Regions from separate parts of the Homo sapiens genome. Here region 1 is linked to region 2. The links come from fine-mapping of genetic effects on gene expression. A gene starts in region 2. The other region holds a variant in brackets. All regions are shown on one strand. Distances are from middle to middle.

What was found. PIP is the estimated chance that this variant, and not a neighbour inherited with it, causes the effect.
Region 1: its variant is the best candidate, but not a certain one, in a credible set for the expression of ABCB11 in nasal epithelium (TOPMed, PIP 0.69).

Annotation. Positions count from the first base shown.
Region 1 is chr2:169,065,605-169,070,002 of GRCh38, reverse strand. DHRS9 (dehydrogenase/reductase 9) reads right to left here and starts at 440. Exons shown (of 5, transcript NM_001376924.1): 1 at 286-440. The variant C/T (reference allele first, on the strand shown) is at 2,586.
Region 2 is chr2:169,029,601-169,033,998 of GRCh38, reverse strand. ABCB11 (ATP binding cassette subfamily B member 11) reads left to right here and starts at 2,675. Exons shown (of 28, transcript NM_003742.4): 1 at 2,675-2,774.

The DNA of each region.
Region 1 (4,398 bases), 36 kb before region 2:
GAAAATAAAATATGAATTGAATTGGGACACTAGGGTGCTAAAGGACATTCAAAGAGAGTCCTGGAGGAGTTCAAGGCAAGATCCCAGGTCACACCGAGGTCATTTCTATGGTGAGATGGACCCAGCTCCCATCACTGGGTTCTAATGTGTTACATTAAAAGAAGTAGCAACATTGACCACAGCTTGAAAGACCACCGATTCATTCTGCAAGAGTGAGGAAAATCAAAGAAAGTTTAGATTGACTTGATAAATAAAAGAATAAATGACAAAACTGTCATCAGTTACCTTATTAAAGATGAAGTGGGACACAGAAACTGTTGGTGGACTTGCTCAGCTGATGGCAGCTTTCCTGCTGTGCACGGGGAAGGAAGAGTTGTGCCACCCTGGCCAGGCTGATCCTCTTGAGGTCGAGGTGCCTGGGTTTCCGTAGAGCTCTGAGTACTACATGTGTGAGGAATCCTCAGGTTCTCTCCTTGCTCTGTGAGTCACTCCCATTGTGACACAACGTGATGACTAAATATCTCTTGAATAGCTCATAAAAGCCAAGAAGCTGTAGGTCGCATGTTTCAAAAGGAATCAGCAGTATAAATTTAGCTACTTTTAGAAGAGACTTTAAAATGATCAATAACATTCATTTTATGATTAGTACAATCTCTTGACCAAATTCAGCAGCAGAAATAATATAACAAAGAAATAAATATTTTGTAAACTGCCTGGTGCGTGGTTTTAATAGTTTTCAAATTGTGATTATTCTTCATAATCTCCATTTTTTCCTTCCTGTTAGCATGCCTTGGCTTATTTAACACTCCTTCCCTCCTAAGAGAATAAGTAGGAGAAATCAGTCTCTGAGATTGGTGTTACCATTTTTTTTAAGATGGGCGAGCAAGGAGATAAAAACAACATAATAAAATGAGGTTTTGGAATTACTTATGGGTCTTAATTTATGTTTTAAGGTATGACAAGGAGAGCTTACTAAAGTGGTCTCTGGAACTGAGACCGCTGAGAATAGGAAAGGATGCCTCCTCCCCTCCCAGAGTTTGTCTGTGTCAGAGTTGATCACAGTTGACCTGGCGTATCCTGGGACCACAGTGGAAAGTACTGAGGCCGCAGGCGAGGAGGGGAGGAGATGGTGCTAATCTAGCCTGCCACCCTTCACCTTCACCACTGTAGCCACTCAGGCAGGTACAAATACCACTTTGCTGATTTTTCATTTTCAGTTTCCTCGTATACCAGTTTGTTGCTATACTCTTCTGATTTCCCAGACTCTGTATTCCTCCTTTGAAAATTGCAGTTATTATGGTTCAACTGGAATGAGCACATGAATGAACATATCTGTCTAGGTAGAGTCAGGACACTGCTATCACCCTTTAAAATAAGTAGTGGTCTTTTTTCTTTAAAAGAACAACAAACCCACTTTGGGAGGCCAAAGCGGGCGGATCACTTGAGGTCAGAAGTTTGAGACTAGCCTGGCCAACATCGTGAAACCCCATCTCTACTAAAAATACAAAAAATTAGCCAGGCATGGTGGTGGGCACCTGTAATCCCAGCAACTTGGTAAGCTAAGACAGAATCTCTTGAATCTGGGAGGCCAAGTTGCGTGTGAGCCAAGATCGCGCCATTGCCCTCCAGCCTGGGTAACAGCGTGAGACTCCGTCTCAAAACAAACAAAAACAAACAAACAAACAAACTGAAATTTACTCAGGTTCACATTTAGGGTGCCCCAAATGTGCTAAATATGCTTTTTCCTCTTTAGCATTTCATAAGTATGGCTTAAATATAAAACCTCATAGACAATACATTGACTTAGAGCCACATGAAGTAAGGTATAAATAATTAATACTGAACCCTTCCTGTGAGCCTGTTATTGTCACTAAGAGGAGAAGAGAGCCTCATGCACCTGGGTGGTCATGCAGTGTTAACTGAAAAGGGCAAAGAAAAAGTTATAACAATAGTTAAAATTTTGCTACTTAATGAACTCGCCTAGTGCAGCCGTGTTTCAAAAACTTTCCAAATAGACTTAAAAAAAGTCAAATGTTTAGACTGATTTGCATATTGGAAATTAGAATTCTTGCCATCTATCTGGCTTGTCCCTCAATTCCTGTGGGCCCAACTCATGGGTTCAGTTTCAGTATATGGCACCACAGCCAGAACACCCCCTCTCCTTGTCCAATGGTCCCACATAGGCGATCAGTTAATGAAGTCATGTTAGCAGTGTCTTATCCAGACTGTAACCATATACACATTCAAATTCATATCTCAAGTGCCAAGTTGTCTTTCATTTCACCTCTTTAATATACAACCTTTGAAAGTGCTACTTTGTTCAGAACTCATCCTACATTGACTTCAGATCAAAGATCACATTAAAAAAAAAATCTGGAACCAAATTGCCATTTGAGTTTTTTCCTAGTTCCTTTTTAAAACAAAGGAGTGCACTGTGCATTTTATTTTAATGTTTGTAGGTGGAATGTAAGTATACAGTGGTAAGGCTAGATGCCACCACAGACAACACACTAAAGATAGAGTTATCCTTTTTCTTCTGAATCTGTATGCCTCCCATACTTCTACCCAAGAGTATCTTCTCCACC[C/T]CTTTCCAAATACCAAAACATAAGGAGGAAACTCAGATCTGAGGCTGTCTCAGGAGACATACGTTAGGCTTCCTGCAACTACACCATTCTGGGGATGGTCTAAGTCACAGATCATTCTAAGATGAGCTTCAACTGGAGGAAAGCACTTACTCCAGTGTGCAGGCTGTGGTGGGTCCAACTTCTGGAGTATATCCAGTGTCACTCTTGTAAGGCTGACCAGGAGGGTGAGGCTGGTGATAGAGCATGCACAGTGGCTTCTTCCTTCTGGCATAATGATGTAATCCTCTCTCTCAAGTCATTCTCAGTGGAACATGTTTCTCTGAACGACTATAAGCTGCTATGAAGACTTCATGTTTTAAAAGTGTACTTTATATTTTCTTCCTCCTCCCTTTGTCAACAGGGAGTTCTCTTATTTCTACTGTAAAGGGAACCTGTACTTTGGTTCCCTTTTTATACAAACAATGCCTTTGACATTTGAGTAGCTTCTTTGGCTAGGCTTGGTCAAAACCAGGAGCTTTGTTACCCATTTGGCCTTTCATGACTCTCCCAGCTGTAAGATGAAGCAGGGCTAATCTTTTGTTTTTCTCTACTATGCAATCTTTAGATATACAAATAGAGATGGAGTCATGGGAACATTTGATAGATTCTTTGAATAAAGATTTTTCTTATTTACAGAGCACATATCCTTTTAGCTTACCCAACAAGAGGTCCTGCGTTGAAAAGTGAAGTGAGAAGTATTATATGGGGAATTATTGTTCTGGTAGATGGAGCAAGAGAGAAGATAGGTGAGAATGAAAGTAACAAATGAACAGAAACACTGTGGATTTTCAGCAACTTGAAAGAAGGAAAGGTGAAGGCTAAGAAAATGTGTCTGTCACAGAGGGAGGGAGGTGGGTGCTCCTTCTGGTATGACCATCACATGTTCACATGTGAGCATTAAAAATTTTTTTCCTGGCTTAAGAATGATCTTCCTGCCAAGTTTCCTAGTTTCTTTCAATCCCTTTCAAAAAGAAGGCAACTTCTTTTTCCCAGAATCTTAACTGAGATGATAAAATATCAAATGAAATTAAGAGCAGATGCTAGATGCAGCTGATTGTGTAATATGCAAGTACTATCCAGTGGGAAAGAACTCACGGGGATTCATGAAGTGGGGAGGAGTGAGTTAGAGACAACTGTCTTCAGATCCTGTTTGGCTTGTTCTGGACTTTGTTTTGGGTTGTTCTGGACTTCAGACCCTGTTTTGGGTTGTTCTGGGCTTTGGTTCTGTGTGAGGCCTATTTGGCTAAAAAGATCCAAAGATGAATAGAAAGGGGCCTTTCTATTGAGGAATAATTCACTGTTAGCTCATTTATTGCTGAGTAAGGAATCTCATAGACTTTCCCCTCTCCTTGGAGAACCCCTGATTCTTGCTGGCTCCTTGAGACTATTTAAGATTGTGGGGGAAAGGGCGATCTTATCCTTTGCTGATGGATATGTGAATTGCTACAGCCTTTTTTGAAAGCTGTCCAGAAAAAAAATCTGTTAAAATAAAAAGCTACTATTTGAGACAAAAATCCTGCTCCTAGGATTCTATCCTATATAAATGTATATAAGTGTATATGAACAGGATGGGGCAAAAAGAACTGGGAGCAAAGCAAGTGCCCACTAGTAGTGAGATAACTGAATAAATTGTGGTACATATGCACAGTGGAATATTATTTTGCAGCCACTAAATAGAACAAACTCGAGCTCTACTATTTGACTTGGAAGGCTTTCCATGACCTCATTTTTGTAAAGCAAACTCTGTGTACATATGTAAAGATACCTATGTGAA
Region 2 (4,398 bases):
ATCTCTTCCATAGTGCAATCTTCAATATTTTTTAAACAACTATTGGCTGAATTCTACCATTGTGGTTTAGAGCTTTCTCTGAGACATTTTTGCTAAGGTTTTGAAACAGGTTCCAAATTGGTCCACAGTGACCTCCAAGGCTCTACAGGAGTGGTCCTCAAGCTTCAGCTCATTGGGCCCCACTCCCAGAGTTTCTGATTCAGTAGGTCTCAGGAAAGGACCAAGAACATACATTCCTACTGGGTAATGAGGAGGCTGCTGCTGGTCCAGTAGTCACACTTTCAGAGCCACTGCCCTGTGAGCTCATGGCACTCCATGATTCCCGCCACACTGACATAATCCCCAGCTGACTTCAGTCTTGCTTACTCCACTCCAGGTTCAGCTTCCTTACATACACCAGGCATGCTCCTGCCCAGAGCTTTGCCCATGTGGTTTCCCCAGATACCCATGTACTTGTTCCTTTACCTCCCTCAGGTCATTCCTCATATGTCACCATCTCAGTGGGCCCTTCCATAAAACCCAGTTAAAAATGGCAACATCCTTCTCCCCTCACACGCTAACTGACACACACACATACACAAACACACTCTCTCTCTCACACAGCATACGTACACACACTCCCTATCATATCCCTTTCCTGCAATGCTTTTCTCCATACCATTTACACCATCTGATGTATTGTATGTGTTACTTCTTTGTCTCCTCTCTATACTGCCCCCTCCCTGCCCCCAGAATGTAAGATTCCTGAGGCAGAGATTCTCGTCTGTCTTATTCATTCCTGAATCCCAGAACTGAGAACAGTGTTTGGCACATAAACATTCAAAAAGAGCCGGTATTTTAATTGGGTGACTGTAGGGACCACAACCCTACCTATTTTCAGACCGTGAACCATAAAGAAGACAAGCTTATAGCTGAAGTGAATTAAGCACGATCAACTCAGTACTCACACTGCCCAGATGTGTCTGGCCAGCATGAGGGTGCAGAGGAAGACACCCTGAACTCTCCAGGGCCCTGGACAGATGGCCACTCTGTCTTCACTTTTCTCATCTATAAGATGAAGTTGTTGGATGATATATCAATATTTACAATGTTGTTTCTAGCTCTAAAACTCTATGCTTTTATCTTCCCTTGGATCTTCATGGCACCAGAAGGAAAGTCTTAGGACCCTTGGACCTGTGAGCAGATCAGCTATAGTCCTGAGTTGACAAATTTCTCTTGGCATTTTTACCCTTTGACTGCTGTCAATAACTTCAGCACAGCAAAGGTAGCAAAATTCTATTGGGAATCTTTTCCCAATCAAAGCTACAGCCCCATAGCTGTGTTGCCTTTTTGGTTTTGTGTGAAGCAAAATTTTTTTCCTGGGTCCTAATTGGTGCCAAATCCAATATTACTACATTTGCGTCAACTCAGAAGTCAACCCATTCAGTTTGCATAGAGGAAACATCTAGAAATCTTGCTTTTCTTTGCTGACCTTGATATATTTGAGATTTGAACATATAATAACATATAAAATTATATGTTATAATTTTGGGTTTTATGGGCTAAGTCATAAACCATCTTATACATAAATTCCAATAGAGAAAAAATGGTGGATGCTGAATTTTAATAAAAAATTTATGACAGAGAAACCTAAAATTGAGAAAATTTGATCTTACAGTTTAATTTCTGCAAATTAAGAAGCACTGGCCCATCAATTGCATTTCAGAGCACAGAGTGGAAGAAGGTTAGCACAGACTGGCATGTGGCTTCACATCTACTAGTTGTTACACCTTAGGAGGATTATTTAACCTCTCTGTGCTTCAGTTTCCCCAACTATAAAATAGAAATGACATGATAGCACCCAACTCCTAGGGCTGTTGAGAGGCCCAAATGAGGTGATACAAATAACATTTTTGAAGTGGGCCAGGCACCCAACCAAGTCTTGACCAATGTTGCCTATTATTATTCATTGCTGAAGGCTGGAGTGAGAGGCATTTAGGGAAAAGTAAGCTCAGGCAAAGGAGAAAAAATAAGAACATTGTAGGAAAAATGGAAAGATTCACAAGAAGGGAGAGGAAGAGGCAGCACAAATATATTGGAGGAGCTCCACATGCTTATTTGACTCAAGACCTGTTCATTTGAACCTTTAGAAAATCGTTCATCTTTGCTTATACAGAGCTTCATCTGGTGTGTCCATGCCAGGGTGCAAGAGTTGTCTGTGCACTCAGACTTTTGAGCAAGGCTGTTTCAAATGTTCTTTTAGGGTATTTGTCTCCACAAAACTCTATAGCTGGGCCAGGAGCATCTGGATCCTGCAACCAGGGATTTTCCAAGAGCAATCTTTTATATTGAGGGGGAAAGTTTAAAGGTATTTTTTTTTTTTGTCTTGTTATGTTTTTAAGTAACTTTTCACAACTACAGGCCTGTAAAAAATAAGGGTTGGGATAGCCTGAATTCCAGGGCTCTTGCTGGGCCCACTCTGCTCAATTTGCCTCTCGTTCCAAGGTGAATCAGCAATTTCCAAGGCCTGTTGACACCCTCAGAGGGTTTCCCAAGCACACTCTGTGTTTGGGGTTATTGCTCTGAGTATGTTTCTCGTATGTCACTGAACTGTGCTTGGGCTGCCCTTAGGGACATTGATCCTTAGGCAAATAGATAATGTTCTTGAAAAAGTTTGAATTCTGTTCAGTGCTTTAGAATGATGAAAACCGAGGTTGGAAAAGGTTGTGAAACCTTTTAACTCTCCACAGTGGAGTCCATTATTTCCTCTGGCTTCCTCAAATTCATATTCACAGGTAAGTAACTTATACTTGTCTCTGCAAATCCATTCCCTCTTCCCTTTAACTCTTACTTTGTGGAGTGGAGTGTTTCTGGTTTATTAAACATTGGTCTCTTGTCCAGTGTAAACAACGCTACAATACTTGGATAGAAACTTACAGGATGCATTAATGATTTCACAACATTGTATACAATACAGATGACTCTTGGTTGCTGTCTTCTTTATAGCAATGCTATTTCATGTATCAATCTCTTAGAGAGAGAGAGAGTGGTGTACATGGGTGTGTGGTACAAATGGCCGAATAGATTGAATAATCTGCTCAAAGTAAAAATACCAGTGGGCTTCTTTTTTAACTTGGCTTTGTGAAAGCACAATTCTGTTTGCTCTGATAATCACAGATTCAATGATCACAAATTCTACCCTTGAAAGCTGGTTTAATGCAGAACTACACCGACTTTATCTTTTCTCCAACACCGTACTCATTTCTTCATTGTCCCGGTTTTCAAAAATATAGATGCAAAAAAAAATGAGCTGTGGATGCATGTTTAGAGGGGAGAAAGTTTGTTTCTAGGATCTAATTTCAGTTTTTAGGTCACCCAAGCCAGTGGGAGTCACATATTGCTAATGGCTTGAGCACAGAGATCAAATATTATTCACACTTCAGACTGGGAATAAAAGACAGTATTTGTCAACATTTTGAGGGGGAATAGCTTTTTAGAGATGTTAGAGACAAATTATAGTGGTTATACCTAAAACTTTTTAATATTAGGAGTTAGTAGTGGTTTTTATTAAACATTTGAAGTGATAACTTATTTATGAGCTGTTGTTTAATAGAAGTTCTTTTCTGTGGGCAACCTCGTCCCCTCACTGCTCACCCCCCTCACCTTGGTTCCCCCTGCTGTGCTCTGTAACACTGTGATTGTCTCTGGTTGAAGCCTCCATTTCCCTGTCTAGGAGCTTCTGTTTACACTCCACCCCACTCTAGATTGCAAGCCCCTTGAATAATTTTTGTTTCCTAGTACCAAGAATAATGGTGACAAATATTAGGGGATGACTCCTAAAAATGGATTAAGAAGCTATTTAGGGGGAAAATGCCCATTTTGTGGTTTTAAAAGATGCTACAATTGCCATAAAATGCCCAAGTTTCATTGCAGAAATCAAATACTGGAGTTGTGTTTTGCTTGGTCAAGAGGAAAGAACTGGCCGGGCGCGGTGGCTCACGCCTGTAATCTCAGCACTTTGGGAGGCCGAGGCGGGTGGATCATGAGGTCAAGAGATCGAGACCATCCTGGCTAACACGGTGAAACCCCGTCTCTACTAAAAATACAAAAAATTAGCCGGGCGCGGTGGCGGGCGCCTGTAGTCCCAGCTACTCGGGAGGCTGAGGCAGGAGAATGGCGTGAACCCGGGAAGCGGAGCTTGCAGTGAGCCGAGATTGCGCCACTGCAGTCCGCAGTCCGGCCTGGGCGACAGAGCGAGACTCCTCTCAAAAAAAAAAAAAAAAAAAAAAAAAAAAGAGGAAAGAACTGTACATTTAGAGACAAAGAATCGCTGTGGCAGTTAACTTTGGTGTTACATTCTGTTTTCTTCCTAAGCAATTCTTTAGTCCTCTACCTCAACGGTGCCTCTGAAGAAAGGAC